5 separate regions of the Homo sapiens genome follow, and all the other regions are reported to be linked to region 1. The links are microRNA targets in miRTarBase. Many come from high-throughput screens and were not tested one by one. Region 1 holds a microRNA gene; each other region holds the end of a gene's coding sequence.

The links. Region 1 holds the annotated microRNA hsa-miR-22-3p (AAGCUGCCAGUUGAAGAACUGU, at 1,456-1,477, opposite strand). A microRNA usually pairs through its seed, bases 2 to 8, with sites in the 3' UTR of a target mRNA and lowers its output. Matches are read on the target gene's strand: a 7mer-m8 pairs with bases 2 to 8, a 7mer-A1 pairs with bases 2 to 7 and ends in A, and an 8mer does both.
Region 2: miRTarBase lists ARID5B as a target of hsa-miR-22-3p. The part of its 3' UTR that is shown has no 7-base or 8-base seed match.
Region 3: the mRNA of CLPTM1L is a reported target of hsa-miR-22-3p. The part of its 3' UTR that is shown has no 7-base or 8-base seed match.
Region 4: the mRNA of BMP6 is a reported target of hsa-miR-22-3p. The part of its 3' UTR that is shown has no 7-base or 8-base seed match.
Region 5: the mRNA of SPG11 is a reported target of hsa-miR-22-3p. The part of its 3' UTR that is shown has no 7-base or 8-base seed match.

What each region holds. Positions count from the first base shown.
Region 1 is chr17:1,712,459-1,717,560 of GRCh38, forward strand. MIR22 (microRNA 22) reads right to left here and starts at 1,529; the gene lies at 1,445-1,529. It overlaps MIR22HG (MIR22 host gene), which reads right to left and starts at 3,752. Exons shown (of 3, transcript NR_028505.2): 1 at 3,672-3,752; 2 at 1,245-1,556. It also overlaps a transcript of WDR81 not described here. RefSeq lists an enhancer at 3,899-4,540.
Region 2 is chr10:62,092,630-62,097,731 of GRCh38, forward strand. It overlaps ARID5B (AT-rich interaction domain 5B), which reads left to right. Exons shown (of 10, transcript NM_032199.3): 10 at 1-4,315. The coding sequence ends at 401. Among named protein-coding and RNA genes, the nearest start is that of LINC02621, 160 kb to the right of the region's middle.
Region 3 is chr5:1,313,539-1,318,640 of GRCh38, reverse strand. It overlaps CLPTM1L (CLPTM1 like), which reads left to right. Exons shown (of 17, transcript NM_030782.5): 17 at 188-889. The coding sequence ends at 272. Among named protein-coding and RNA genes, the nearest start is that of MIR4457, 6.7 kb to the right of the region's middle. RefSeq lists enhancers at 1,896-2,045, 2,336-2,725.
Region 4 is chr6:7,879,309-7,884,410 of GRCh38, forward strand. BMP6 (bone morphogenetic protein 6) reads left to right here. Exons shown (of 7, transcript NM_001718.6): 6 at 683-793; 7 at 886-2,420. The coding sequence ends at 1,035. TXNDC5 (thioredoxin domain containing 5) reads right to left here. Exons shown (of 10, transcript NM_030810.5): 9 at 5,051-5,102; 10 at 2,209-3,958. The coding sequence ends at 3,836. BLOC1S5-TXNDC5 (BLOC1S5-TXNDC5 readthrough (NMD candidate)) reads right to left here. Exons shown (of 13, transcript NR_037616.1): 12 at 5,051-5,102; 13 at 1,942-3,958. Among named protein-coding and RNA genes, the nearest start is that of TXNDC5, 29 kb to the right of the region's middle. RefSeq lists an enhancer at 2,758-3,957.
Region 5 is chr15:44,558,325-44,563,426 of GRCh38, forward strand. It overlaps SPG11 (SPG11 vesicle trafficking associated, spatacsin), which reads right to left. Exons shown (of 40, transcript NM_025137.4): 40 at 4,372-4,977. The coding sequence ends at 4,797. EIF3J (eukaryotic translation initiation factor 3 subunit J) reads left to right here. Exons shown (of 8, transcript NM_003758.4): 7 at 1,925-1,998; 8 at 2,694-4,479. The coding sequence ends at 2,825. Among named protein-coding and RNA genes, the nearest start is that of EIF3J, 24 kb to the left of the region's middle.

The sequences.
Region 1 (5,102 bases):
GGCTGCCCTCCCTCCTCTTGGGGTGCTCCTGGCCTTTAGGGGCTCCTCTGCTGGATGCCCAGGTAGGACCCTGTGCTCTCCAGGCCTGGTCCTTCACTGGTCTCCATATTCCCAGGCTGCCTCTCCTCACCTCTGCTCCATGATGGGTGAAGATGGCAGAGGCACATAGCGAGGGCTGGAGGGAGATGCTGTGGCCAGTGAAGCAAGGAGAAAGTACGGAGGCAGTGTCCAGGGACAGAGTCACCTTTGTTGCAGCCTATGAGTCTATCCCCTGCTTCTCTACCACTGTCCCACACGCATCCTGCCCCTCAGCTTGGCTGCAGAAGAGCAGGGTTCCACGGTCTACTCTTCTCCACATCCTTGAGTTTTTCACAAGCGGAGGACAAGATACAGCTCCCTGCACATCTCCTCCCACCAAATCGAACAGACACAGCTTCCTGTAGCCGCTAGGTGAGAATGGATCAGGGCTGGAGGTGGCAGGTTTACACTCACTGCCTGATATCTGGAAGGAGGTCACATCCCACAACCCACCTCCCCTACTTGCTGCAGGGGAGAATTTCCTGTCTGCACAGGCCTGAGCTGGGGATCACATACCACCTTGGAAAGCAAAGTGAGGAAAGAAACAGAGTAGCAGCAGTTAGAATCCCACCAAGGGGCTGCTGTCCTGCTTTGGATATCAGGGGAAGCCTTGGGCCACCCTTGCATGGGGGGAAGTCACGGAGAGGCGAGCTCTTACTAGCTCCTCGCATTGGTCTAACTCTAACCCCCTCCTCCAGCTTCCCATTCCCCACCCAGCTTCTGGGTGATGGTATCAGGGATGGGGGAGGGACAACAGCTTCTGTGAAAAGGTGTTTTGTTTCCACCCACAGCAGGGGGAGAGCCCGGGTTCTGAGTCAACCCAGATGGGCTTCTGATTCCCTCATGCACACTCATCTGTGTGACTGCCCATCTCACAGGTGGAGAAACTGAGACAGGAGGTCTAAGGGTCTCAGATACAGGTAAGTGCCCAGGAATCTAGAGTCTGGGCCAGCCTAAGGAAATGCAGGGAAAAGTAAGAGCAGAAGGATGACTCCTCACGCCTGGGTTTAGTATCACTTTTCCCTGAAGAGTGAGCTTACTTTTGGACCTCATCTGGAAAGGCCAGTGGGGAAGAATGAAAGATACGGAAGGAGGGTCAAGAAGGAAGTCGGGGAGACAGAGTGTTCTCTCCACTTCTTCCCACTGTCACACAAAGACCAACTAACCTTGGGTTGTTTGAGCCTTCTACTCCTCAATCCAGCCAGTGTCTCTAATCTAAAACCGCTCCTTGCTGGGCCAATCTGGGCAAAGGCTCTCCAACTTGCCCAAAACGTATCATCCACCCTGCTGTTCGGACCTTCCCAGCCCATTTCTGTCACCTTCCAGATGATGGGGAAAGCAGCTCCTCCTCCTCCTCGAAGCCAGGGGCAGAGGGCAACAGTTCTTCAACTGGCAGCTTTAGCTGGGTCAGGACATAAAGCTTGCCACTGAAGAACTACTGCGGCTCAGCCAGGTGAGGGCGTGAGAGGAACAGGCTCCTAAGGGAAAGGGAGGGAAAATGGGAAAGATCTGAGCAGGGCATGTTGCTGCAACGCTGACCCACTCGCTGGCCATCAGGGTCCTGCCCCAGTAGACCTCTGAGATTCTAATGCAGGGCTGCAGCTCTGATCTGGGCCCGCGGAAGCTGTTAACCTCGCTGAGCAGCAAGAGGTGGCTGTAAACAGACTTCCCTTGCTCTTCTTTCCAGAACTGGAGTCTAGAGAAACCCAGTCCTGCTCTCACCCTCCCCTGCCCTAGCGGCCCCTGGGGGCCCAGCCTCCTCAGCATTCAGACAGGGTGGGGCCCGGGACCCTGGACACACCCCACCAGCACGCAGGTACTAGAAGTGTGGTACCTCAGGTCCAGAAATGTGAGTTCAGTGATCAGCCCAACTGACTTGTTCCCAGGGAGTTCAGCTGGAAGGAGAGTTCTGGGGGCCTGGATTGGGGAAGAGTGAGGAAGGGAGGAGGCCTAGCGTTTGAAAGAAGGTCAGCAGAGGCCCCCGGGGCTGTGAGGGGCGGACAGGGGACCACAGGCTGGAGAGGAGGGAGGTATCGGCAGGGTGGCCGGGGCTGTGAGGGGCGGGCAGGGGACCACAGGCTGGAGGGGAGGGAGGTATGGGCAGGGTGGCTGGGCAGCTTCCCCAGGACTCTCAGATGCCAGGCATTCCGCTTGCGCATTCCGGGTACATCTGGTATGAATTCCAGGCTGTCTGCCGGCCCCTCCATGTCTGAACTTTGTTCCAAGTTCCAAGCCCCGCCCCCACAGTTCCAACGCATGAATCAGCAGGAAAAGCCGGGCCCTGCAGCATGGCCCAGGGAGGGGGCTGGGGGCGTGGCAGGCTCGGGGGATGTGAGCTGGGGAGGGCGGGTCCGTGCTGACACTCAGTCCAAGGGCATGGCCCACGCCAGGCTGAGGGGCCAAGGCGGTCTTGCCTTGGAATTTCTATACTCAGAGGGTAAGAAAGATTGGGGGATACGGGGTGCGGTTCAAATTCCGAAACCCTCTTGGGAGGCATGAACTTTGTGTATCTTCCTTCCCCTGGGTGACCAGTCCAACTCCGTCCGACCTTCCTCTGTCTGAGATAGCTCTGTTCAACCCAGAGGACTCAGCAGCTGCTGAGAGTCTGTGCCAAGCAGGTGCCCTTGGCTGCAGGGCGGGGTGGGCCCAGGGCACTGACCCTCTGACCAGCTGCTCCATCAACCCTCTGGCACTCTGACAGCTCCTAGCCCAATCTGACAGCCAGGATGACAGGCCAAAGGAGTTGGAGGCTGGAACCAGGGCCGGAGGGAGGTGGGGGTGACAGCCTCGCCGGAGGCCATGGGGAGGGGCCAAGAGTTGGCCGAGAGGTGGGGAGAGAGGCAGCCCAGTGATGACTAACCCAGGCGCCCCACCCAGCCAGCCGGCTTCCCAGGCAGTCAGGGCCAGGCCTGGGCTAGGGGCCTCACAATCGGACAGGCTGGGGGGAGGTGCAGAGGTGACCTTCTCTCGGCCCAAGACGGCCAGTTAGTCTGGGGAGCGGGGGTTAGAGTTTCCAGGCCCTCCTCTTGCCCTCTTCCCCCCGCCCAACCACGGTGAAACCCTAACCTTTGGGTTGCATAAGGCCCCGGCACCGCCGCCCCCTACTCCTCTCCCCTCCCCCCTTACATAACATCCCCTGGAGAGAACGAGAGGAGGGGCCGGCCCGCCCAGCGACCCCTTCCCTGCCAGGGCGCTGAACTGGCCCTGACCCAGTGAACGCCGGCAGAGGCAAAGCACCTCCTCGCCGCCCGCTCGGGGGGTCCAGACCCTCCCCAGGCTAGATGGCCGGCCCCTGTATCCTCAGACCGGGGGCCGCCGGGTGAGCCGCCCCCGGCCCTCCGGCCCCTCGGCTCTCCCCCCGCCCCCCGCCACTCCGCCAGCCCTTCCGCCACGACTCCCGTCCCAGACTCTTTCCTCGTAGCTCCTGACACACTAACCCGGCCAGTCCAGGCCCCTCTCCCCGAGGCGCCCCTGCCCCCGCCGCCCCTTCTCCTCCCGGAAGGGCTGGGTGTGGCCGCCCGGACCCCACTTTCACCCTCCATCCCGTTACCGCGGCTCCCCGCTGCGTGACCGGGTCGCCAGCTCACACCCACCTGGTGCTGGGTGTGGGGGTTGCTGCACGAGGGGGAGCAAATCACTGCGTCCGCTCCCCACGGCCGGCGGCGCTGTCTCTTCTCGGCACCCAGCACACACCGGCTCCAGGCTCCGATCAGCTGGCGGCGTCGTGACGCACGAGCTGCGAATGCACGGCCCGGGGCCAATCACCGCCCACTGCTGGGCAACGTGGCCCCGCCCACCCGGGGGCCGACGGGGCCTCGCCCTGGTCCCGCCTCTCCGGGCGCCCTGGCTCTGATTGGCAAGGAGGCCACCCTTTTGCCGGGCGGAATTGCACGAAGCCACGCCCACCCACTGAGGAGCCGGCCAATAGACGGACAGGTGTGGCCCAGCCCTCCGCGTCAGCGACCCGCTTAGAAAAGCGCTACGTCAAACGAGAGTCCTAAAGAGCAGGCGAAAGCCACGGCGTCTGCGTTTGCAATGCATGCTGGTCCGTGTAGTTCTCAGCCTGACACCGTCGTTCCCAGAACCCAGCGCGCTCTGTGAGTTGGCATTTTTAAACTGAGCTCGGAATCCAGCCCGGGGAAGTCCTTAAAGGGCGACAGCCCCTCCTTGTTGGAGTCGTGAGTGCTTCTTTTAGACATTCCCCAAACTGACTCGCCGGCCTCTGCGGGACGCTATAGCTCTTTAAGGAAAGGTGGAGCGGACCAAGGAGCAGGAGTGGGCAGAGCGTCAGCCCCCAGGGCAGCAGAGACTGCCGTTGGAGAGCTCTCCAGGGTTTTTGGAGGAGGGAGGGTGCTCGCCTCGCCCAGCCCACTCCTCCTGGGGGCTCTTCCTAACCACAGGAGGCTTTTTTTCTTGGATGTCTCTTCCCAGTCCCAGAAGAGCCCCCAGAGCCTCCCAAGAGGTAGCTTTCTAACAAAAGATTCATAGCACAGTCCTCACCTTAGGGTAGAGGGAGGGCTTCTGGTCAGAAATTAGGGGATGGGCCATGCCAAAGTGCAAAGGGTCAGCAATCGCATCCTCTGATTAACCCCCATTCAGTCCCGCCCTCCAAAGCTCTTCACTGACTCAGGCCTACTTAGGGAAGAGATTCGAAGGTGGAGACCAATGAGCAGGCTGCTCCTTCCCCAGGGGCCAATCAGAGTCTAGATGAGCGGGGGATGGGCAAAAAGTGAAATGAACCCAGTGACTTGGCAAAAGCTGCTGGTCGGCGTTTTTAAAGGGGCAAGCCGGAGACCTGCCCTACCTTATCAATCCCCGCAAGTCCCCCAAAGAGGAACATGTGGACTGAAATCCATGCCTTTTCCTTCAGCTCCAAATAGGGGCTGAGGGTAACTAAGCAGGAATGATGAGGCTGGAGGGTGAGATCCTTCCTTCTGTTAAATACGCACTCCATCAGGTAATTGATAAGGTTCACTTGGAGCTCCAAAATTCTGAGCCTGCGTTCAGGACATTGCGCCTTTAAG
Region 2 (5,102 bases), not on the chromosome of region 1:
CAGCGCACGGTGGGCATTCCGGGGGCGGATCAGAAGGCCACAAGCTTCCCCTCTCCTCCCCTATCTTCCCAGGTCTGTATTCCGGGAGCCTGTGTAACTCGGGCCTCAACTCCAGGCTCCCGGCTGGGTATTCTCATTCTCTGCAGTACTTGAAAAACCAGACTGTGCTTTCTCCACTCATGCAGCCCCTGGCTTTCCACTCGCTTGTGATGCAAAGAGGAATTTTTACATCACCGACAAATTCTCAGCAGCTGTACAGACACTTGGCTGCGGCTACACCTGTAGGAAGTTCATATGGGGACCTTTTGCATAACAGCATTTACCCTTTAGCTGCTATAAATCCTCAAGCTGCCTTTCCATCTTCCCAGCTGTCATCCGTGCACCCCAGTACAAAACTGTAGGCTCAGCTCTGCCCAGCAGTCCAAAGCGGCATGGCCAACAGAGCTTCACTCCTTACCCAGGAGTGCTGGCTTATAGAGTTAGAAGTCAGTATTTCTTCTAATCTGAGGCTATGATCAGTCCCAGCTGTAGGGGCCCAGAGGGGAGGTGAACATGCCTGATTTTTGTGGGACAACTCTAGCCCACAAACTGACTGGCTGGTGAGTCTTGACTCCCTTCCAACACAGATGCCCAGGCACCTCCAGATCATTCACTTCGCACGTGGGCCTTGTGAAGGGATTTGTGAATATCCAGGAAGAACTTAGAGGACCCCATCTGAGTTCGGATGGTCAGGAAACAATCTGGGCAAAAAAGAGGCAGGCATTTCAAAGGAAGGGGCAAGGAAGACTGGCAAACAGATGGCAAGGGATGCCCCTCTTTTTCATAAAACTCTCCAAGGTTCAATCAATGCAATGTATAGTGAAACTTCAATAGATCTTTCATTTTGACACTATTAAACAATCCAGAGAAGTAAACACTGTTAAATTGACTGTATATATTTGCTTCTTAAAACTACCTGTATCACTGTTTGCTCACCTAATTTATATACAGGTAGTTCCATTTTCTCCCAGTTCCTTCTCGTCTTTTTTTTTTTTTTTTTTTTTTTTTTTATTAAATGGTATTGCTTTTGTTTGCAGGTCTTTTTGTTTTTGTTTTGTTTTTGAGGCTGACTGACTGTCCTAGTTGTTGTGTGTTTGTAATTTTTCCACATCTTATTTTGAGCAGCTTTGGGTGGTAAAGTTATTGTTTACAAATTGAAGCAACTGATTCTAGTGGAACAAATGAAAAAGAAACAGTCAAGCACACAATAGTGCAAAGAACGTTCCTTTGTAGATCCGCAACTTAAGGATTTTGTTCCTCATAAATGGCATAGTTGAAAGAGCTTATACACTGCTTACCCAGCCAAATGCTTTGCTTTGAAGTATTGGGTTCTGTGAAAATATTGAGCATTGTACTTACCTTATCTAGGCTGTGAAACTGTCCTACATACCAGAGAATCATAAAAACAAAAACCTCACTGGCAGCAAGCTGCCGAATAACAACAGAGTCTAGAGGACATATTTGTGGGCTGCACAGATATTTTAGGAATTTCAGAAATTAGAACAGGAGCCAAAATGATTTACATTGGCGTTGGCACTGATTCCTTTAAATGGTCTGGGAAAGGGGGTTGGGAAGAGGATGGAGCTCAACTGGCCAGAAGAGGAGCAGCTGCAGTCCTGATAGCTTCTCTAGCCTCGGTCTTTTGAGTGATAAGTAGTCATGTTGTTTTCATCCAGTTGGTTTCTTGTCATTCCCAAGAAGAATCTCCCAGGCCACATCTTTGGGGATAACTGACATACTGGATTAGCCTTTTCAAAAGAAAAGTCATCCTATTTGGTTTTATGGGGTGTGAGTTTTGTGTGTACACACACAGAAACATGTAAGGTGGTTTGGGTCATGTTTTTAACCACCTGGCAATACAGTCCACTTTCTGGTTTCTTTTATTGTGGGAAGTAAATGGTCAAGCTGCTCAGGCAGTGAAAAGATGTGGAGAATGTCCGTTGTCATTCTTGCCACTGTATTCCATTTGCTACCGAGATATAACATTAAGGTGGACACATTTTCTAACTGTATTAATTAAAAGTCAATGGATACAGAGAGTGGATTTTCTCCCCAAGTCCCATCCCTGCTGAAGACCGCTTGGATGAACTCCCCAACCCACTGTGCCCCTCCCGCAACACTACCAGTAGACTTTAGAACCATAGTTAACTAAGTCTTTTACCTCTGAGATACTTAATTCTGGGAAAATTGGTGACAATTTTCAACTTCTAAATAGGTAACTCGACTGCAAAATAATCAAAACTGATAACAATGAAACTGCGGCTCTTAAACAAAGCCATGCATGCCGTGCATTTGTATTGAAATGTCTCCATGATATGAAGCCAAATATTCAATGTAACATACTTAATATCCAAAGGTGGAAACAAAAGAATGTAGAGATCCAGTGTTAAGAGTTCCATTTGCTTCAATTAATTATTTACCTTCCTGTGGAATAATATATATATATATATTTAATAGAACCATAGATAGACTAGTAGAATTTAGATTATAAATGTGTGAGTGCAGATTATCCTGCTATTGCACAAGCTAGAGGGGGGAAAAATCTCAATTCCAGCTGGCAAGATGCTAGCCAGGACACATATAAGAAAGTTGCACTAGATTGAATGGTCACAGAATCGGAGGACATGGAAGAAAAAGGAAACTTCGGTGGTTCTGCAGCAGACATGGGCTAGGTCATATGTGGTTTCTATGAGTTCGTGTCTCAAAAAAAAAAGGAGGGGGGGCATCTGTCCCCGGTGGAGCTCACCTATTTGGAATATGGGGCATTTGTTTTTTCCACTGCAATGATTTCAGTCTGGTTTCATCATGTTGGAATTCGATCACACCATTTTCAAACAATGTTAACATAGTCCAGCTTTTGTTTTTCTCATCTCTTCTGAGAGGAGACTCACTGTTTCTGTCTGAGGAAGCTCATACCCTCGGCAAAACATCAGGACAAATAAAGAGAAATGGGGGTACGCATTCCCAACAGAAGCAGTGTGTTATTTGTTTTAAAACTCTGAACAGAGATCTTGGAAATCTTTCAAAAAGACCATTGAATTCTTCATTGGCTGAGAACGACGTTTTAAAATGTCTTAAATAAGGCTTTGTTTGCATTGTTTGAGTTCAAGGGGCCTTATTATTGAATGGAATTGCACAAGCCTTTCTTTGTGCAATCAAACCATTGTTATTGGTAGTTCTGTAAAGGAAACTGTGGAATCGAATTGGCAGTGGAGTCATAAATCTATTTACTGAGTGTGGCTTCCAAGAAATGTTGCAATTCAAAATGCACTAAGTCTGTGATTTATTGGAGATTTGGAGATTCTAAATAATATTTTTAAAAAACTTCCATGCAACTTCTGGTTTAATGTTTGGCAACTCCACATGATAAAAAAATAAAAACAGCCCAACCGAGTTTCGGAATTAAGTATTCTTCTAGTAAGTGATTCAAACTTGTAATATTTGCCACAGGACTGACTTATTTATTTACTAGCTAGAAGCTCTTAAGTTCACTTGTTTATCAGGGCATATACAGAAGGGTTTGTTAAAACTCGATGTTAACTTTACAACTTTCTGACCTGGTGCATGAATTCTCAAGTACTGTATTTCACTGTGTTGGTGTGTCTGATGGAAATTTCGAGGTGGTCCCACAAAAATATTTTATGTAGTGTGCCTTCAAAGAGAACCATTTATTTCTCTTCACTTATCGTCCCACAAAGTCACATTTGGTGGTGGTCAGCCAAGTCGCATCTGGTCTAGTTTTACTCTTGTCCCAATTTTAAAGAGAAATGGGAATGAGTTTGCCCTGGTGAGACCCATACCATTGCAATGATTATCTTGAGCACTTAAAGTCCAGTGTTGGCTGTTAGTGTATTTGATATTCTGCCTGTCTCCTCATGGTTGAAATATGTCTGAAGAATAGCAGCATAATCTCTTGGCTGTTTATACTTTTTTAAACTTTCCTGTGTTGTAAATATTGTATACTTTTGGTGATTCCAGCTATGTAACCTCTATGCTCTGTAAGGTGATTATTTGTATATAGCAACATGGCCCAGTGATATTATATAGTTTCCCAATGGAGAGGTTATTGAGTAACCTTTGCATTAGTTTAAACACTACCAGAAGAATGCTGAGCCAACTATAAACACTCAATTTTGTATGTTTTCCAAATTGTACTTATTACTGCTTTTGATACTGTATTACGTGCCAATAGTTTCCCAATCACATAGCAGGCAAGAGATATTTTGTACTTTTTGATCCACTGTAATATTTAATAAAAAATGTTACTATCTGTTTCCTTTTGGGTGTGAGTAATCTGTCACTCTTCCTGAGGAGCCTGTGGCCTCCCCAGAAGACTTTCCACCCCATCTGTCCAAATTGAATGATAACAGTAATGATGGCAATGTCTGTAATTCACTAAGGACCTAGTGGGTGCCCATTTGGCAAATACCTCTTATCTTCACAACCTTATGTAAATATGGTTATACCTATTTTACTTATGAGAAAACTAAAGCTTAGAGAGGTAAATCAACTGGTCCAAGATCACCCAACAGATGGCAGAGTCAGGATTTGAAGCCAGGGCTCTCATCTATGTACTTCCTTTGTATACCATCCTCCTCCGCTGGTAGGATAATCAGAAAAGTTATTTATTTATTTATTTGTTTGTTTGTTTGTTTATTTATTTTGAGACAGAGTCTCACTCGGTCGCCCAGGCTGAGTGCAGTGGTGCGACCTCAACTCACTGCAACCTCCGCCTCCCAGGTTCAAGCGATTCTCCTGCCTCAGCCTCCTGAGTAGCTGGGATTACAGGTGCGTGCCACCACGCCCAGCTAATTTTTTAATTTTTAGTAGAGACGGGGTTTCACCATGTTGGTCACGCTAGTCTTGAACTACTGACCTCAGGATCCACCCGCCTCAGCCTCCCAAAGTGCTGGGATTACAGGCATGAGCCACTGTACCAGGCCAAGTTATTGTTTTTTATTCAGTCAACAAAGATTTACTCATGCCCCAATTGCCAGGCATAGTATTAGGAGCTGGGAATACAATGGTAAATAAAATATAAAATATTGTCTCTGGGAGCTTAT
Region 3 (5,102 bases), not on the chromosome of region 1:
AGAACAAAACACAACTCAGAAATCCCTCCTCAGCCCTCGGCAGTAAAACTTCTGAGGATTCGACTTTTTAGTTAATTTGCTCACTGTGGCAGCTCACTGGAAAATAAATCGAGGATGCCAAGTCCTCCTCTTAGAAAAATAGCCCCTGCAGTGGGGTTTGCTGATGTGCTCATTTGTGTCATTGCAGGCTTTATCCTGTGGATAAACGCAGAGTGAACGAGTTTGGGGAGTCCTACGAGGAGAAGGCCACGCGGGCGCCCCACACGGACTGAAGGCCGCCCGGGCTGCCGCCAGCCAAGTGCAACTTGAATTGTCAATGAGTATTTTTGGAAGCATTTGGAGGAATTCCTAGACATTGCGTTTTCTGTGTTGCCAAAATCCCTTCGGACATTTCTCAGACATCTCCCAAGTTCCCATCACGTCAGATTTGGAGCTGGTAGCGCTTACGATGCCCCCACGTGTGAACATCTGTCTTGGTCACAGAGCTGGGTGCTGCCGGTCACCTTGAGCTGTGGTGGCTCCCGGCACACGAGTGTCCGGGGTTCGGCCATGTCCTCACGCGGGCAGGGGTGGGAGCCCTCACAGGCAAGGGGGCTGTTGGATTTCCATTTCAGGTGGTTTTCTAAGTGCTCCTTATGTGAATTTCAAACACGTATGGAATTCATTCCGCATGGACTCTGGGATCAAAGGCTCTTTCCTCTTTTGTTTGAGAGTTGGTTGTTTTAAAGCTTAATGTATGTTTCTATTTTAAAATAAATTTTTCTGGCTGTGGCATTTTTCTTGACCTGGTATAATGAAAGTATTTCGGATATTTGAGTTTAACCCTTTTCCAGAAAGTAATACATGATATGGATTTATTTATGCATTAAAAGAGCAAATTTAAAGAGCCCTTTGCAAGCCTTTGAGTCATGAGTGTTCTTAGATACGTAGCATCTTAGTTGTTTAAGACTAAACTATTGTACAGAGCCATGACCCATCAGGTCAAGCTTATCTTGCCCTAGGTTGAGGCAGAGAGAGAGAAATGGAATAGAAAGATGGGTGGAGAACTGCTGGACTCGGTGTGTAGTGAAGTTTAATGTTTGTTGAAGTTAGTTTTTGTGGGGTTTGTTGTTCTCAGCTCACAGCAGCCTCCACCTCCCATGTTCACACAATCTTCTTGCCTCAGCCTCCTGAGTAGCTGCGACTACAAGTGTGCACCACCACATCCAGCTTTTTTGTATTAATATTTTTAGTAGAGATGTGGTTTTGCCATGTTGTCCAGGCTGGTCTCGAACTCCTGATCTCAAGTGATCACCCGCCTTGGCCTTTTGAAGTGCTGGGAGTACAGGCATGAGCCACCACACCTGGCCTCTAAATATATAATCTTTTTTTATTCCTGGTCATTTCCTTGCTCTAAGTCTCCTTTGCCAATAACAGCTTTCATCCTCTTGTGTTTCTGGAACAGGCTCCCCTCTCATGGGCCTGGCTTCCTTGCAGCTGAGGGGCTTTGGGAGCCCTGCTCAGAGCCCCAAGCCTGCAGGCCTGTTCCATGTGTCTCCACGTAAATGGACGAGACACACCATTCCAGGATGCTCATTCAGGCTGAGAACCAAATCCAGATGCTCTCAGTCCATTCGCAGATGACAGTGAAGTTTCTGTACACTCTGCTTTCTTCTGGATCAGATAAATCTTTTATAATTAAGGTGTTGTAAACTTCACTCGATTTGAGAGGAATGCACTGGGGCTTCAAGTTGTCATCTTTCAGTTTTATTCATTAAAATACGAAGATACCAGATGAGTTGGCACAGGAAAACAAATACGAATACACGGCCTGTACTGTGTTACTTAGTCGTGTGTTGTAAGTGGGGTCTGGAAGGGTGGCTGGGAGAGCGGGTGAACTGCCGGTTCCAGATGGGACGCACAGCACCTTAAGGGGCCTGGGGGGGCACACGGGAGGCGGCTCCAGAGGCAGGGCAGATAGTGGGGGCCCGCAGGCAAGTCAGCAGTGGGGGAAAGACAGCAGAAGGCGTGAGGGTCTTCATTGGTGTATGTGAAGGTCACGAGGTCACACGGCCCTGCCCATCACAGGTGCGTCGGTCTGCGGGGAAGTTGAGGCATCAGGGAACAGGAAGTTTTAAACGTTTACAATGGATCTTACCCACACAGGCCGTGCCTTTGCCTGCGGTGTCAGATTACTAGGGCGGGGTGCGGTGGAGGGTGTCCCTTCCACACCTGTGGTTTTATTTGTCTTTGGGGGAGGGGAGCCTTGCTTTATAAAACACAACTGGCTGTGTTCTGTAAGGCTTCACCCAGCACATCCTGTTGGCAGCAGCTAAGCACACAAACGGGAAAGGAGTATCGCCCAACTCCACCGATGAACTCAAAGTGCCTGGCTTTGCCTGGGGGATGCTGGCAAGGTTAGGTGCGGTTCCCAGCGTTTCTTCTGCCTCCTGGGGCACATCCCGCGGTGGGTCAGCGCCTGCGGCCGGCTGCTGCAGAAATAGCGTCATTCGGCCCCTGCATCAGCAGCCAAAGCCGGGCCTAACTGTCAGGAGCTCCGTGGATAGCTTTGCTGCTCTCGCTTTTCAGTTTCAGTATCAAAAATAGTTGCTACAAGAACTGATTTTTGTCATAGCACCTGCTCTTCCATTTGGGCTGGCGTGCTGAGCAAAGGTGGGTGCAGGCGCCTCATCAGCCTGACAGCAGAGTCAGCTTAACCTGAGTTTTCAGGAAGCACCGTGGCAGGCCCCCAAAAGGGGCAGATGTCCACCGTGCACTGCGTCTGCTTCTGCAGTCGGCCCTCCAGTGCCGTTTTCTTTCACCTGCAAAGGGCCTTAATGCGTGAACCAGCTGCTGGTGACTGTTAGTCTTGCTCTGTTTAAACAGTAGCAAGTTGCAGAGTGTTCCTTTGAAGACACCGCAAGTCACGTGTGTCAGTTACTCCTGAGAGGTTTCTGGGGCGCCTGCCTCTCCTTTCTTTAAGATGAGCAGAGGTTTAAAAAAAAATGAGTTTGGGGAATGAGCCTTGAAAGTCCTTCCAGCTTCAGGACCGGCACTTGCTCTGACAGTCTGACTTCTGCCCTGTGGGCCGGCGCTCCTGCAAATGGGCAGTGTTTCAAGAGAGGACTGAGCCTCATGCAGATCCATCTCATGGGAACCCTGAAGCTTCACTGACCAACAGAGGCTCCACCTGGGCGACTTGAAACATGCTTAAAGGGTTTATCTGTCATTCATCCCGATGAGTTTAGTTCTGTTTTCCTCTTGGATTTCATTGATATTTCTGCATACCATCAAAGCCCTGTCTTATGATTGATCATGAGGTGGGACTTAGAAATGCGCTAAGTACCTGTGGATTTTAGACTGTGTCAAAGCCCTCGAAGCTGAAACAGAGGACTGACAAGGTGAGGGCCCGGGGTCCCCCACGGTGGAACTGCAGTGTCCTGATCGCAGCTGGTGGGCTCCGTACCTGGGCAGGATGGGCTCTACTGGAGCAGCCAGTGTCCAGAAGGAGCTTCTGTCTCTACCCCTTGGCACTGGCCACTCATTTTATAGAAGAGATTTTCTTTAGACCAGAGTTTATTAGAAAGCCAAGGAAAATGAGAACACGTCCCCCTGTGAAGTACCTGCCACACATAGCCCTGTTGAAGCCAGTTTGGTGGCTGTTGGGTCTTTGGCAACGAGATCAGTCTGTTGGCCTCGGCCCCGGTAAGCCCCACAGGCCAGGGGTCTGGAGGAAGGATGGGGTGCAGCCTGCGATAGGTGAGGCTACGGAACCCTGACGAAGCAGGGGCTGTGTTCGAGGAGTGATCCATGCGGAGGAGGGAAACCAGGAGGAGGTCTTGGCGTATACCACACTGCTTACCCCTTTCCTGAAGCAGGCACAGGACCCAAGGGGGTGTGGCGCCCTGTGGCCCACCATGCTTTCAGAGCAGCAGCCTCTGCAGAGACACTGGTCCCAGAAAAGCCACCGCCTGAGTGTCCCCCAGCCACGGCCACCATCCCCACAGCTTTCATGCTTCAAGCAGCATATTTGTTCTCTGATGGTTCTGGAGGCCAGGAGTCCAGACCAGACCTCCCTGCGCGGCCACTGGGGTGTGGGCAGGCCCTGCCCTCCAGGGGCTCCAGGTGCTCCGTTCCTCGTGCTCTCCACCTCGAGAGCTGTGCTCCTTGCATTCCCGGGCTTGTGGCCTTCTTCGCCTCACCCTAACCTTTGCCTCCGTGGTCATATCCCTGATTCTCACCCCGACCCTCTGTGGTTACATCAGTCCCAGACGATTACCCAGCATCATCTCCCATCCAAGATCCAAGTGTGATGGTGGCCACCGAGTCCACTCTGGCACGTGGGATCACATCCGCGGTTCTGGGGCTGAACCGGGATGTCTGGGGGGACATGCCCACCTCCCCCTCATCCTGCCATTTCCCTTGTTGAACCTTCAGTGTGATGTCCCAGTGGCTTCTGTCCTGCTGGCTGGACTCAGCTGGTGCACTGAGAGGCAGACACTTTTTTTTTTTTTTTTTTTTTGAGACGGAGTCTCGTTCTGTCACCCAGGCTGGCACTGCAACCTCTGCCACCCGGGTTCAAGCGATTCTCCTGCCTCAGCCTCTCGAGTAGCTGGGGTTACAGACATCTGCCACCACGCCCGGCTCATTTTTGTATTTTTAGTAGAGATGGGGTTTCACTATGTTGCCAGGCTGGTATTGAACTCCTGACCTCACGTGATCTGCCCGCCTTGGCCTCCCAACGTGCTGGGATTACAGGCATGAGTTGCTGCACCAGGCCGGCAGGCACTTTTAAAAAACTTGTTGCTATACAATTTCCACACAGTGTCATGGCAGATGCACCCCGTGCAGCTCAACAAGCCCTGCATGCTTCCAGACTCCAGCACCAAGCACCCGAGTCAGGCTACAGACAGACCCCGGCCCCACGGGGCCCTCTCAGTGGAAACCAGGCGGGTGAACCCAGCCCATGGGTCACCGGGTCCAAGTCCCACACATGAACAGTCATGCTGGGAGCTCTGGTACCCAGGTTCTCGGGCTGGGCTCTGTCTGGCGTCCATCTGTGTTGTCGCAAGCGGTGCTCATTGTGACTTTCTTCCATGTGGCATTCCATGGCACGAACCGGG
Region 4 (5,102 bases), not on the chromosome of region 1:
GAGTAAGGCAGAGGAAGCTTAGTCTGTGGGGCACCAGGCGCTCCAACACCTTCCTAGGGTGCCTGAGCTCTGTGATCCCTCAAAAATCAATAGCCACATTTCCCAATATTCTCACCTCATCCTTTCAAAGCCCATAGGACATACATTTATTTGGGCATTTAAACAAATTTTAATTGAGACAGGGTTGGAAAAAAATTACCTAATGGTTAACATCTCCAATGGCTGCAAACCAGCTCACCAAACGATGCAGAAGAGCACACGTTTGCCTCGTACCTGAGAACCATCACTAGTTTGTAAGAAAGGCAGCAACTTTAATCACAGGTGGTGAGCGATAAAAGGTAGCTTCCATATGCAGGTGGCACTACTTCCGCAGGAGCACCGTGGGCTCCTGGAGAGGCTTGCTTGGGTCCAAGCACATATTGCTGGCAACCTACGTGCTTCCAGGTAGCAGCTGAGGCCCTGTGGGCCTCTGCAAGGAGCGAGGGTTCTGGGGTCAGATGGACCAGGTTCACTTCCCAGCATTGCCACTTGAATGTGAACTTGGACAAATTCCTAAGCCTTCCTGCGTCTGTATCCTTGCCTGTGCAATGTGAAAAATACCTTTTCACAGCATTCCTGAAAAGCACAAATAGTGTGAGAAGTGCATGCTCATCTTTTGTTGCTTCCTTTGCATGAAATTAAGGACTGGATCATTGCACCCAAGGGCTATGCTGCCAATTACTGTGATGGAGAATGCTCCTTCCCACTCAACGCACACATGAATGCAACCAACCACGCGATTGTGCAGACCTTGGTGAGCTCTCGGAGACTTTGTTTTGTAAGTGGGAGTAAGCCAAGACCAGGTGTCATTTCTAAGGTACCTTCTCCCCTTCTGTTTTGGAACAGGTTCACCTTATGAACCCCGAGTATGTCCCCAAACCGTGCTGTGCGCCAACTAAGCTAAATGCCATCTCGGTTCTTTACTTTGATGACAACTCCAATGTCATTCTGAAAAAATACAGGAATATGGTTGTAAGAGCTTGTGGATGCCACTAACTCGAAACCAGATGCTGGGGACACACATTCTGCCTTGGATTCCTAGATTACATCTGCCTTAAAAAAACACGGAAGCACAGTTGGAGGTGGGACGATGAGACTTTGAAACTATCTCATGCCAGTGCCTTATTACCCAGGAAGATTTTAAAGGACCTCATTAATAATTTGCTCACTTGGTAAATGACGTGAGTAGTTGTTGGTCTGTAGCAAGCTGAGTTTGGATGTCTGTAGCATAAGGTCTGGTAACTGCAGAAACATAACCGTGAAGCTCTTCCTACCCTCCTCCCCCAAAAACCCACCAAAATTAGTTTTAGCTGTAGATCAAGCTATTTGGGGTGTTTGTTAGTAAATAGGGAAAATAATCTCAAAGGAGTTAAATGTATTCTTGGCTAAAGGATCAGCTGGTTCAGTACTGTCTATCAAAGGTAGATTTTACAGAGAACAGAAATCGGGGAAGTGGGGGGAACGCCTCTGTTCAGTTCATTCCCAGAAGTCCACAGGACGCACAGCCCAGGCCACAGCCAGGGCTCCACGGGGCGCCCTTGTCTCAGTCATTGCTGTTGTATGTTCGTGCTGGAGTTTTGTTGGTGTGAAAATACACTTATTTCAGCCAAAACATACCATTTCTACACCTCAATCCTCCATTTGCTGTACTCTTTGCTAGTACCAAAAGTAGACTGATTACACTGAGGTGAGGCTACAAGGGGTGTGTAACCGTGTAACACGTGAAGGCAATGCTCACCTCTTCTTTACCAGAACGGTTCTTTGACCAGCACATTAACTTCTGGACTGCCGGCTCTAGTACCTTTTCAGTAAAGTGGTTCTCTGCCTTTTTACTATACAGCATACCACGCCACAGGGTTAGAACCAACGAAGAAAATAAAATGAGGGTGCCCAGCTTATAAGAATGGTGTTAGGGGGATGAGCATGCTGTTTATGAACGGAAATCATGATTTCCCTTGTAGAAAGTGAGGCTCAGATTAAATTTTAGAATATTTTCTAAATGTCTTTTTCACAATCATGTACTGGGAAGGCAATTTCATACTAAACTGATTAAATAATACATTTATAATCTACAACTGTTTGCACTTACAGCTTTTTTTGTAAATATAAACTATAATTTATTGTCTATTTTATATCTGTTTTGCTGTAACATTGAAGGAAAGACCAGACTTTTAAAAAAAAAGAGTTTATTTAGAAAGTATCATAGTGTAAACAAACAAATTGTACCACTTTGATTTTCTTGGAATACAAGACTCGTGATGCAAAGCTGAAGTTGTGTGTACAAGACTCTTGACAGTTGTGCTTCTCTAGGAGGTTGGGTTTTTTTAAAAAAAGAATTATCTGTGAACCATACGTGATTAATAAAGATTTCCTTTAAGGCAGAGGCTGGTCGAGATGCTGCTGTTATCTTCTGCCTCAGACAGACAGTATAAGTGGTCTTGTTTCTAAGATTCCTACCACCAGTTACTTTGGGCCAAGTATCCACATCCCCTTGCGTATGGGAGGTGGGTGAAGAGTGTTGGATGCAAAGTGGTTATTATGGGAAGTAGCTCGATGGTAAAAGGACAAACACCTATCTATCTTAGAGCTTAAGCCTGTATGTGCTTATTCCCAAGGGAGATAGAGGTGTTTAATCACAAGGACAGCATGAGTTAGAGGACACTGGCATCAACAGCTGCCACAGCCGTGCACACCAGGGCCAGAGCAGCCCACTGACATCTGTCTTTGGTCTTGAGATCAAATGCATCCCATTCTTCATACATTAGAAGGTCGACCTCCTTGAAGCAGACCAAGTATAGCAAGCCTCTAAAAGGACTACTGAGAAACAGAATCAGAAACTCTAGAACTCTAGTTAGGGCCCTTCAGCAGGGCTGCAGAGCCTCCCTGGATACCCAGGCCTGGGAAAGCCTGTCTGGTCTTGTCACCCCAGGTGACAAATACAACTGGAATCTTTCAATGAGTTAATGAGATACTGAGAATGAGCCTCGTGGAATTTTCCATGCCTACCCTTTCTAAGGAAGACATCCAACAGTTCATGTGGGCTCTGGCTTCGTGTTAACATGAGGAACTAAAGACATGTTTCACCCCGTGAGAAACAGAAGGATCCCCTGAACAGTAACTGATTTGACAAGTATCGACACATAAAGTTATGGCATCAGCATTCTCTTACTCAGGCACGGTCAGAAGTAACGCTGCTTTCATCACGGCTAACCTCTCACACTGAGAGAAGTATTCACAGCAACAGAAGCTCCAGCAGCGGCCGTGAAGGTATCTTCCAGAGGTGTGGGTTTTTGCATTTCAATCTGCTCCATGCTACGGACCAACACAGTATTGAGTCAACTGTGACCTTAAGATCAGAGGAACGTCAATACTGCCACAAGGCCACCTTTCCAGAACTCGTGGGCAGGTAAACTATGCTTTGGATGTGCTTTCTTTCACCAAAATCACTCAACTCAGGAGCCACAAATAGTCCAGCAATTTCATTTCCCTCAACGCTATTTTAGTCTCAAAGGAAACCATGTAAATTTCATCAAGAGAAGGTCAAAGGGGATATATCGCCACTGAAAATGTTTACACAGTGACCATGAGTTACACATTTACTTAGAGAAACTTAACTTAATAAAGAATCTGTAGAGTGTGTTGGCTTGGAAAACACACACACAAAGAAGATACCTCACGCTTAGTATGTTCTGCTTTCTGAACAGCCACCACTGGGAACCCAGTGGCCTCTGTGGGACTGAACTCCTAAACGCAGGGTGCGGGAGCTGGGCAGGAGAGGTGACCTCCAACTGTGTTCCTAAAGTTCGTCTTTCGCTTGGCTCAGGACAAAGCGGTGTAACGAGTCAAGGTCTCTGCCTCCACTGTGCTCACTGACTTTCTTCCCTCCTCGGAAAAGCAATAACGTGGGGTAGCCTCGTACCTTAAAACAAAAAAGAAAAAAGTTTGCAAACCAGCGGTCCAGATCACATGCAAATTGCTTCCTAAATAAAACCAGATACACTCCTACCGTTGTGGCTGGAAAAATTCTGTGGCTAATTTTTAAAGGTGTATATTCCATTAAAACAGGAGCAGACTACTGTTTAGAAAGCACAGCCGTGGGGCTGTGTGTTCACTTCTGAATTCAAAATGACATCATTAAAGATCAGCCTCAAAGGAACGACTTTACCCTAAAGCAGACGCTTTCAGTCTTTACTGTGCACACGATCACCTGCGGATCTGCTGAAGGTGCAGATTTGGATTGAGCAGGCCTGGGAGTCTGCATTTCCAATGACCTCCCTGGCGATGCCCTGGTGGTCTGCAGACCAGACCATGAGAGCAAGATCCTCTTGAGGATACATGTTTCAGTGGCAACTCGTTTCTAAGAATTTTAGGGCACAAAAAACAACTGGTATCTTTTAATGATAAGGAAACTATGTCTGGGTTACGTCTATTCTCCATCTAAAGGGCTCCAAAAGTGTCTGAATAACAAAGAAGAAAAAAAATGACAAATCTTCCAGGCCATCAGACTGTGCTAACAGCTTGGAATGAAGGCAGTAGTTAACCCAAGCACAGGACCGACTTGCTGGCATGGCCCTTTCAGAAAGGAGGTTATGTTGAAATGATTCTTAGATTCAGCCACTGCATTTTATAATGCTGGCTTATGTGTGAAAAATGAGCGACTCGGGTATTTATGGCAAAGGCTACAGACCACTGGTCAATCATCAAGAGTCGCGGTGTGGGAAGCCCCACAGTCTATGGCGTGGGGTCTGTTACTTCACGGCCTTGTTACTCAGACAGCAAGGCCTGAAAACCTGCACTGAAACATGGATACTAACTACAAAGCGGGCGAAGAAGAATGCCTTCCCTTTGAGAGAGGATCTCTTTTGCTTCTCCAAACAAACAACTCAAAGGGACATAAAAACCACATTGTTGAGAAGATGAGAGCAGAGTGAGTTATCGTGGTTGAGGCACAGTTCCCTTGGGATCTGCCCCCATACTGAGAGCTCCCATAAGCATCCATCCAAGTACCCACCGAATACTTGCTGCAGATATTCCGTTCAGCAGTGCAGTCTACTTCGGCGATC
Region 5 (5,102 bases), not on the chromosome of region 1:
CTGGCGCAGTGGCTCATGCCTGTAATCCCAGCACTTTGGGAGGCCAAAACAGGCGGATCACGAGGTCAGGAGATTGTAGACCATCCTGGCTAACAAGGTGAAGCTGAGGCAGGAGAATGGCATGAACCTGGGAGGCAAAGCTTGCAGTGAGCTGAGATCGTGCCACCGCACTCCAGCCTGGGTGACCAAGTGAGACTCCGTCTCAAAAAAAAAAAAGCAATTCTCCTGCTCAGACTCCTGAGTAGCTGGGATTACAGGCGCCTGCCACCACGCCCGGCTAATTTTTTGTATTTTTAGTAGAGACGGGGTTTCACCATGTTGGCCAGGCTGCTCTGGAACTCCTGATCTCAGGTGATCTCCCTGCCTTGGCCTCCCAAAGTACTGGGATTATAGGTGTGAGCCACCACGCCCAGCCTATTTGCAGTTTTTAAGATGGAGAAAAAGGAATCCTACACAATGAATTGGGTTTTCTTTGATAAATTATCACTAAGCTGAGGGTTCTACATTTGATTGGTAATGTGCCCAGAGTTGATATTTTATTCTGCATGTACTAATTTTTTTCTGGTTTTTGGAGGTGTTCTCTAACCAAAACTGAACACTTTCTGGTAGCTAAAAACTGGTGTCTCTTTCCAGCTTCATATTTTTATAAGGCTGATAATGCTGTCCACTGAACAGGACTATTTCTTGGTAGGACATAGAGATGGTCACTGTTCTCATTGTAGTTCCCGTGCAAGAAAATGGAGACATCATGGGATAGGGTGTTGTCATTGTAGGTTTAAGAATTGTCATTCTGGCCGGGCGTGGTGGCTCATGCCTGTAATCCCAGCACTTTGGGAGGCTGAGGCTGGTAGATCACCTGAGGTCAGGAGTTTGAGACTAACCTTGCCAACATGGTAAAACCTCATCTCTATTAAAAAAAAAAAAAAAAAACACAAAAATCAGCTGGGCATGGTGGCACGCACCTGTAATCCCAGCTACTCGGGAGGCTGAGGCAGGACAATCACTTGAATCTGGGAGGTGGAGGCTGTGGTGAGCCGAGATCACGCCACTGTACCCCAGCCTGGTGACAAAGCGAGACTCTGTCTCAAAAAAAAAAATAAAATAGGCCGGGTGCGGTGGCTCACACCTGTAACCCCAGCACTTTGGGAGGCCGAGGCAGGCGGATCACGTCAGGAGATCAAGAGCATCCTGGCTAACACAGTGAAACCCCGTCTCTACTAAAAATACAAAAAATTAGCTGGGCATGGTGGCGGGCGCCTGTAGTCCCAGCTACTCGGGAGGCTGAGGCAGGAAAATGGTGTGAACCCGGGAGGCGCAGGTTGCAGTGAGCCGAGATCGCGTCACTGCACTCCAACCTGGGTGACAGAGTGAGACTCCATCTCAAAAAAAAAAAAAAATAATAGTAATTGTCATTTCATGTTTATTTGTCTGTTCTCCCTGATTACTGGGGGTGTGTTAATGGAAGGGCATGTTATCCTCCCCCATTTGTTTAGACTGAGGAAGGATAGTAGGGAGCATTGTGAGCTATAAAGACAGTTTCTCTTTGGTTGAGCAATGGTGTGTTGGTGATTACAGGTCGTCATTATAAATAAAATGAATTTTGTTTTCAAGAGACAGGGTCTAGCTGTGTTGCCCAAGCTGGTCTCGAATTCCTGGGCTTAAGTGATCCACCCACCTAGGCCTCCCAAAATGCTGGGATTACAGGCATGTGCCACTGTGCCCGGCCACCTTACGTTTAAAGAGGAGAAATTCATGGTCCTTTCAAAGTTACTGAAGTTTAACAATGAACAAATTGGATTTCTCATAACACTTTTGGAATGTACATTTTGGGATATATAGATATATATGGAATGTACATATTTAGCTTTAACTTTTCAAAATGCTTAAAAATTCAAGTTTAATGGTATGCCCTTTTTTTTTTAAGTGGAAATTGATGACTTGAAAAAAATTACCAATTCACTGACTGTGCTTTGCAGTGAAAAACAGAAGCAAGAAAAGGTAAGAGCAAGCTGTGTAGGGAAATGGGTATTAAATTAGAGTGGGGTTATAGGTCTAACAGTCAACAAATATAATAGGAGCCTGTCCTAATTAAAAGTCAAGCAACTCACTAATACCATTTAAGTTAGACTAGAAGAGGAGTATGGGTGCTATTACTGTCCTTTTGTTTCCAGACATGTTCCCCTTTTCTGAGTTAATAGAAATTGCTGAAATCACAGACTGGGTTCAAATACTAGCACTGCTACTTAATAGGTATAGGTAAATCAGCTTTTCTAAGCTTCAGTCTTCTCCCTTCTAAAATAGGAACAATAATACTCACTTTGCAGAGTATTTATAAGAGTAAAGTAAGAGAAGTATGTCAAGTAAAGGTTAGAGCTTTGTGATTTTAAATTGGGGGGTACTTATCCACACTTTTCTAAATTTGCTTCAGTGAAGTTAAGGCTGTCTACCAATAACTTATAACCCCTGCTGGTGGGCTAGGTATCCAGAGCAGGACCAAGGACCCAGATCAAGTTTTGGAGAGACTGACTCTGGGAGACCTGTTCAGGTCCAAAACATGTAGGCTCGGATGTCCCTTACAGAACTAGTGTTTCTGGGACCAAAGGTTTTTGTGTGTTTGTTTATGAGGGTTGCTGTACCAGATAAGATGCCCATAGCACACTAAGGTTCATGAATTAACTCTCTTTCATCTTTAGCAAAGCAAAGCCAAAAAGAAGAAGAAAGGTGTGGTTCCTGGAGGGGGATTAAAAGCCACCATGAAAGATGATCTGGCAGATTATGGTGGTTATGATGGAGGATATGTACAAGACTATGAAGACTTCATGTGACATTTTATCTTTTCTTGGTGTCATCTTTATGTTGCCCACAATCCCTTGAACATGTAGCACAACTTCCTTTCCTTTCAGTTCTGCCAAATGCTACAATCAGAAGTGCAGTATCTTTTGTGCTGGTTATTTAACCCCTTGACACTTAGGTGCTAATGTGCAAATGAGGGAACTTGGATCTTGCTGCCAAGGGGTTAAAATTGGGAACCTAAGTTGCTACTAAATCATAGTTCAAAACCTAATAATGTTGTCGTTGTTGCTATCTGATTTCATAGCAGCAGTCACTAAATTGGAAACAAAAGGTTGCAACGTGACAAAAAAAATTGTGTAGTATTTACCAGCACCATTCAGTAATACAGCCTTAACCATACCTCCTTGAACTACTTCATAACTTGTCAAGAAAAGCAGTTTGCAGCAAGGGCATGTGGTGTGCACCTAGTATTAAAATTGCTTTGTCTTAAAATTGAACATGAGGATATTAAAAATACATTGTGAAGAAGACTGCTTATCTCAGAGTGAAGATACTGCGGCTGAAAAGCACTAGTTTGATATAAAATTAAAATGACCAAAACCCTCCAACTTTGAAGCTAAAGAAGGTAAACCTTTCCATTATTGCATTACATGTTGTGGAATCTCTCGAGTGCAAAGACTGTCTAGTTATTTATCAGGCTATTTCTACTGATGAACTGCTTCAGGTGGGGGAGGGAAACTTATTTTTATTTGCCTGATTTAAGTGTCTGAGAAACAAATCTTTGTTCTCTTAGGCTGCAATGGAACAACTTTACCAGGGTTTTGGCATTTCCTTTCCTTTCCTTTATAAAACATGCTCAGCAAACTGCACCAGTTAACTACAGTTTGGTAAATTGTTATGTTAACAATTATGACATCTGCAATGTTTTATAAAGCAACTAATTTAATAAAATCACTGTTGTGAGGACTTAAATTTTGTGTTACCTCCCAAGAGATACTTTTTGAGAGTATAGAACACAGCTCTTGGGAGTACAGTTCTCTACGTTCTCTACTAAATCTTAATAAATGCTTGACATAGTTACAGCTTTAAAACATGAGTGATTTGCCAGGTCCTTATGTTGTCACCATAGAGCAACAAAGGTATAGGGCTGCCTTCCTCTTATTTATTTGGGGACATTATTTTGTTATTTAGATACCAAGGCCTAATTAATTAAGTACCTATAAGAACTATTTATTTGGAGTAACTGAGCCTGTAACTCAGGTTTATGGCTGTTAAGTATAGATTGGGGAATCTTTATTATGTCTTCTCCTAAGCAGTTTAACCAAATGTGTGGTTAGTGTTTTTTTATTCCCCTAAGACAGAAAGAACAAAAAATGTTTTAAATTTCTCTTATATAGGAAATAATAGGAACGTCAAAGCTCTGTATACCTACTAAGTGGAAAACAAGACCATCATCTAAGTGATTTGAGAAATTAACAAAAGTAGTGACTACACAGCAATAATTACAGTAAATTAAATAAAGATTCCTTTAAGGCAGACAAGGGCTAAGATTTCCTTAGCAGTAATAATGACATACACTGAATTGAAAATCTATTTTATTACAGAAAGATCAGTTTCTAACAAATGAAAATGTATCACCTGTTCCTTAACTGTGTAAATAATAATTAAATTTCTTTGAAACTGGAATCTGCAGGTACAGGTATTCTTTAATCATTATTGGATCATCTAAAGTAGAAGCTGTCCTGAGGAAGAGGAAGCTTTTGATCTTAATACTAGTATCTATATAAAATGGTGTGGATGAACAATCATCTAAAATCAATCTATTTTAAATAGGAATTTCCTCCTGAAAAGTTTCTTACTTGCTACCTACTACCCACAAAGGACTGATATGGTACAGTACCGGGATTGTTCAACTTTAGCAAAGATCTCCAATGCATTCTTCTTCTCATCACATCTGTCAGAATCTGCTAACAGTACAAGAAAACAGACACCTATGAAATCATCTAACCTGCTAGCATGTCCTTTAGACAGCAACCTGTCTGAGGGTCCTTCAGAAGCACATTTACAATTTCATAAAACTTGTGTTCGTATGCCAACTTGTAATACAGGTAAACATCTTCACAATATGTGAGTAATTTCTTCAGGTTTTCCATGACCATGTCAGTAGGCTGATGTTGTTTATATCTAGATAAAGAAACATAATGTACAGGTTAAGATACTGTTTTTTGTTTTGTTTTGTTTGAGACAGTCTTACTCTGTTGCCCAGGCTGGAGTGCAGAGGAGCAGTCTTGGCTCACTGCAACCTCCAC